Regions from separate parts of the Homo sapiens genome. Here region 2 is linked to region 1. The links come from fine-mapping of genetic effects on gene expression. A gene starts in region 1. The other region holds a variant in brackets. All regions are shown on one strand. Distances are between the middles of the regions.

Region 1 (2,916 bases):
GAGGATCGCTTGAGGCCAGGACCCAGACCAGCCTGGGCAACGTAGTGAGACCTCATCTCTACTAAAAATTAAAACAATGAGCCAGGTGTGGCAGCATGCACCTGTAGTCCCAGCTACTAAGGAGACTGAAGATGGCTTGAGTCTGGCAGGTCAAGGCTGCAGTCAGTTCTGATTGTGCCACTACATTCCAGCCTGGCTGACAGAGCAAGACCCTGTCTCAAAAAAAAAAGAAAAAAAAATGCCATGATCCTGGGCCTGGTGGCTCACGTCTGTGATCCCAGCACTTTGGGAGGCCGAAGTGGGAGGATCACAAGGTCAGAAGTTGAAGACCAGCCTGACCAACATGGTGAAACCCCATCTCTACTAAAAATACAAACAAATTAGCCAGGCGTGGTGGTGCGCACCTGTAATCCCAGCTACTCAGGAGGCTGAGGCAAGAGAATTGCTTGAACCTGGGAGGTGGAGTTTGCAGTGAGCCGAGATCGTCCCACTGCACTCCAGCCTGGGTGACAGAAACTCCATCTCAAAAAAAAAAAAAAAAGCCACGATCTTAATCAGTTCCTAAAGATCATTCCAGCTGCTGGTTGGAGAACTGATCACAAGAGGATCAAGAACAGATGTGGGCAAACAATTCAGACGTTGTTGCAGCAGTTCACATGAGAAATGACATCCACTAAGTCGGTAGCAGCGCCGATGGATGGGGGTGGGATGATCCAGGTATTTAAACAACCATCAGTCCCTACATATAAATGAATGAATGATTTTTCCTGGGAGCCAAAAGTGAGAAAGAGGTGAAGTACTCTTCTCTTCCCATTCCCTAAACACTGGGACAGGGGTTTTCTTGAGGCCTGACATTGCCTTGCACACGGTAGGTGCTTAGTAAGCCTTGGCTGGGCTGAATTTGATCCCAATACGCAAATTACGACTCTTATGCAGTAGCTACAACCCACCACGTGGCCCAGAAGAGTAGGCACCTGTGGGACAGACAGCCCTAAGATTCCACTCCCGGGCACTCAGCCAGGACTCAACCCCAGGTAGATGCTGGTTGCGCAGACCCCACAGTCTTGGCACCGGCGAGTGGCGGCCCTACTGGGCCCTGTCTCCTCCCCGGGCACGGCCTGATCACTGAGATGAGACCCGGGAGCAGCCGGGCCCCAGCCCATCCGTGTGCCTACGCCCAGTCTCCCCAGGCCCTGCACTGGGCCGAGGGTGCAGCAACAGAAGAAGCCCAGTGACCAGAGCGCAGGGCCCCGCCCCTGGCCCCAGAGCCCCCGCCCAGGACCCCCGCCTTCCGCTTCAGGCTCCGGGGAGATACGAGGCCTCCGGGACCCCGCCCCCGATCCCCGCCTACCGGGGCCGCCGCGTCCTCCTCATCCATAGGCCTCTCAGCTCCGCACACAAGCTCTTCGGCCGCCGCCACCACACACATCCGGGTCCCCGCCTTTCCTTCACTCCTAGAGGCCCGCCCCGTCCCCCATCTAAGCCAATCAGCAACGGCCTCTGACGACGGGCACCTGCAGGAGCCAATCGGAAGGCGCAGGCAGGGTGTGGGGCGCGGCCCGGTGCCCTGGGTACCCAGCTCAGGGCCCCGGTCTGGTCAACCCGGCTGTTGCTGGGGTGAGCGAAGGCGACGTGGCAGCGCGGACGCTGCTGGGTGCCTGGGCGCCGCTGAGGCGGACAGGGGGCGGCTCTTGAGCGGCGCCGGGGAGACGGGACGGGCGGAGAAGGTGGCCACGCTCGCACAAACGTTGCGAGTATTACTTGAGCCCTCCTTCCGCGCTGGACTGAAATAAAAGCTTTACCGGAATGTCCATTTAATCCACGGTGCAGCCTTATGAAATAAATCTTATCTCCTTTTTACGGATGGGCCGAAGGCTGGCCTCGATAGCCTGCGCGCTTAACTGTTATGCTGTGTACCCTCCCGAGCTCTGTTTCATGGCACCGCTCGCTCATTATTGGCAAGAACATTCCATTCCAGGAGGAGAGAACTGGGGATGCAGAAGGCACAGTGGCACGAAGCGGCATTCTGTGGAGGAACACAGGGCTTTGGTAGGCTGAAGGAAAGTTAGACTGGGGTTAGAATGTGAAGGGACGAAGACACGAATATTTATTGAACACCTACTAGGGAGTGCCTACCTGCCATTCTGGGGGGTTGGACTCCTAGATGAGGACTTCCTTGCTCCCTTCCCATCACCATATCTCTCTCTTCTGGACGGAAAAGATTCCTCTCCTCTGTAGCACCTCATTTATAATACTTTTTTTTTTGAGACGGAGTCTCACTCTGTCGCCCAGGCTGGAGTGCAGTGGCGCGATCTCGGCTCACTGCAAGCTCTGCCTCCTGGGTTCACGCCATTCTCCTGCCTCAGCCTCCCAAGTAGCTGGGACTACAGGCGCCCGCCACCACGCCAAGCTAATTTTTTTTGTATTTTTGGTAGAGACGGGGTTTCACCGTGTTAGCCAGGATGGTCTCGATCTCCTGACCTCTTGATCCGCCCACCTCGGCCTCCCAAAGTGTTGGGATTACAGGCGTGAGCCACCGCCCCCCGCCATTTATAACACTTATTACCGTCTTGCTTTCGTTATTGGAGTTACTTGTGTGTGTAGACCCGTCTCTGCTAGACTGTGAGCTCCTTCAGACCCCAGACTATTCTATTCTTATCACACTAGGTACTCTAACGTGTTGAGTGCCAGGAAAGCCATCAGCTCGCATACCGTGAATAGTGCCCACTCGGCATAACGGCAATGGGTGATAGGAATAGATGAGATGGGAAACAGAGAAACCCGGATTAGAGCCCCAATTCTGTGTGACTAAAAGGTCAAGGTCTTGGTGTTCTCATCCCTAAACAAGAATTATTGAAGTATGTGTTCTTTTAGCTCCCTTCCAGCCCCTGGATGACTCAGTTCTGAATAGCTACC
Region 2 (2,916 bases), 70 kb before region 1:
ATCAAGGTGTCATCATCAGTTTAGGACGCTGCCCGAAAGCATCTGAAGTTTACAAAAATGTTCATATTTTTTTCTCCAGTGGGCTAGTAAAAGTCCTAAATATATTTTAAACTAACCATTGCTTAAAGTACTTACTTGGTCTGGATTTGCCACCTTAACAGTTTAGTATCGTAATTTAGTGAAGAAAATCTGTGTTTTCTTAACTTTTGTGTAATTTTTAGAGGCGGAACATAGGACAGCAATTCATGTCCTTCGTTTTACCGAGTTGAGGGAAATCCAGACTGATAAAAGGGATTTACTCTGACGTCCCATTCTCTTGTTCTTCCATATTTACTCTACCCCCTTGAAAACCCTCATCTCCTTTAATTCACTTCAGTAAATCTTTTTAGCTGGTACTGGTATCTGAGCACAAGTCACATCTTTCAGTCTGTTCTTGAGGAATCTGGGGTTTATCGGATTGTTTCCCCGCTCCTCTTTCCAGTCACACTGGCTTTGTGAAGTAACCAGTATTCCCTGATGTGGGAAATGGATGTTATGTGTTCTGTGTGAAAATACATAAAACAACTTCATACGCCTCTTTTACTGTTAAATGAGACCAAAAAATTCTTTGCAGCAATACCAGTTTCCAGTGTGATCCATTATTGACCTTCAAGAACTAAGGTAGGTCTCAGAACTAACTATAGAATGAGGATAGTTTGAATTCCTAGAAACTTGATACATTGAGCCAGTACACTTAATTCCTTGCTTTGCTTCTTAAAAAGAATTCTTAAAGGCCGGGCGCGGTGGCTCACGCCTGTAATCCCAGCACTTCGGGAGGTCGAGGCGGGCGGATCACTAGGTCAGGAGTTGGAGACCAACCTGACCAACATGGTGAAACTCTGTCTCTACTAAAAATACAAAAATTAGCTGGGCGTGGTGTCGCGTGCTTGTAATCCCAGCTACTCCGGAGGCTGAGGCAGGAGAATCGCTTCAATCTGGGAGGGGGAGATTGCAGTGAACCGAGATTGTGCCATTGCACTCCAGCCTGGGCAAAAGAGCAAGACTCCATTTCAAAAAAAAATCTTAAAAATACGAAGTTTTTCATTTTTCTTAAATTTTCATTGTGACTACTTTAGTAGACTTGCCAGTAATAAGCCAGTTACCGCTTGAATCTCAGTTTCTTTATCTGGAAAGTGGTCATTATTTATCTGCTGTCCCCTTACCTAGAGGGAATCAAATGCGTTTGATACAGGTTAAC[A/G]TTTAAAATGCTTTCAAATTGGGCAGGGTGCAGTGGCTCATGCCTGTAATCCCAGCACTTTGGGAAGCTGAGGTGGGTGAAACACCTGAGAACAGGAGTTCGAGACCAGCCTGGCCAACATGGTGAAACCCAGTCTCCACTAAAAATACAAAAATTAGCGGGGTTTTGGGCTGGGCGTGGTGGCTCACGCCTGTAATCCAGGAGGCAGAGGTTGCAGTGAATTGAGATTGCACCACTGCCCTCCGGCCTGGGCGACAGAGCGAGACTCCGTCTCAAAAAAAAAAAACAAAAACAAACTTTAAAATTGGAAATAACATATGTAAGCTCATGCACAGGCCTTTCATTTCCATAATGCTTCAAAATGCAGTCCTGTGTGACATCTTATTTGATTATTTTTATAGGGAGAAGATGCTCTGCAGTGGTTGTTTTCATACACTGCTGACTCTCACAGTGAAATGGTTTTAAGGGGTGCCATTATATATTGCTTACAGATTCCCTAGTGTCAAGTTCCATCCTCTATCATGTATATGTTATTCTGTGAGTAAGATACCCAGAAGGCCAAAATTAAAACTCTTTATGAAAGTTTAAATACAAATACAGAATAGTGTCAATTAAGATAAAGCAGTGTTTCTAAGTAATGTCATTGAAAAAAGAGGTATATTTCATCTCAAAACATTCTGGAATTCTCTTTTCGTGATGGTAGAGGAAATAACTGAACTTGAGTACAGTATTTTAAGTAATTATTTGTAATTAGGTTTGCCTTATGTACATTTATGAGCCAGTTTCTTAAATTTGTAGTAGATACTGCTATGGTCCTGATAGTGGGAAAGTACCAAATCAAGAAGTTTAACTTGAATTTGTGTACCTCCTGTCTCCCATTTTGTGTAATGGTTAGCATGGCATGCATTGGGCACTTATTTTGTTTGATTATGTATATGATCAAATTGAGTATCCCTGGAGGGATAAGGAAAAGGTAGTATGGCATCTTCTGTCAAAATGAAGTAATTGGGCACAGAGAGGTCATGTAACTGAACCCGTACGGGGGTCAAGATGGTGGAGCTTATGAGTTTTGACTCAGTCTTTACTATGCTAAACTTACCCAATCCCCAACTAAATCAAAAGGTGGCTTGCACTGGGATCTTTTTGACTTTACAATGGGTTTATCCGGATAGTAAATGCATTTTTTTACTTGAGAAGGGTTTATCCTGACAGTCTCATCATAAGTCAGGGAGCATCTATATAGTGCAGTAAAGGTGAAGGTGAAATATTGTATTACATTGCATGAAATGTCTTTTCATGGCTGGGCTGTAAACACCAATATAATTAGTCTAATTCTAGGCACTCTGGGTGGATCGATTGTGTTTATGCAATGTTGTTGGTTTAGGGAAACATTTGTTATTCATTATTTAAAGTAGCTTTTGTTTTGTTTGTTTTTGTTTTTGTTTTGAGACAGAGTCTCACTATGGCTCAGGCTGGAGTGCAGTGGCGTGGTCTCAGCTCACTGCAATCTCCACCTCCTGGGTTCAAGCGGTTCTAGAGATGGAGTTTCACCATGTTGGCCAGGCTGGTCTCGAGCTCCCGACCTCAGGTGATCTTCCCACCTTGGCCTCCCGGAGTACTGGGATTACAGGCATGAGCCACCACACCTGGCCTAAAGTAGCTTTTAATTATGGAGAATG

Evidence for each region.
Region 2: its variant is fine-mapped to the expression of SPRYD3 in whole blood (INTERVAL, PIP above 0.99). The same link has a PIP of 0.9 or more in esophagus muscle, fibroblasts, lung, lymphoblastoid cells, prostate and skeletal muscle.

The regions. Positions count from the first base shown.
Region 1 is chr12:53,077,960-53,080,875 of GRCh38, forward strand. It overlaps SPRYD3 (SPRY domain containing 3), which reads right to left and starts at 1,431. Exons shown (of 11, transcript NM_032840.3): 1 at 1,352-1,431. The coding sequence starts at 1,374. RefSeq lists a silencer at 1,132-1,411.
Region 2 is chr12:53,007,984-53,010,899 of GRCh38, forward strand. All of the region lies in intron 1 of EIF4B (eukaryotic translation initiation factor 4B), which reads left to right. Among named protein-coding and RNA genes, the nearest start is that of EIF4B, 3.0 kb to the left of the region's middle. The variant A/G (reference allele first, on the strand shown) is at 1,238.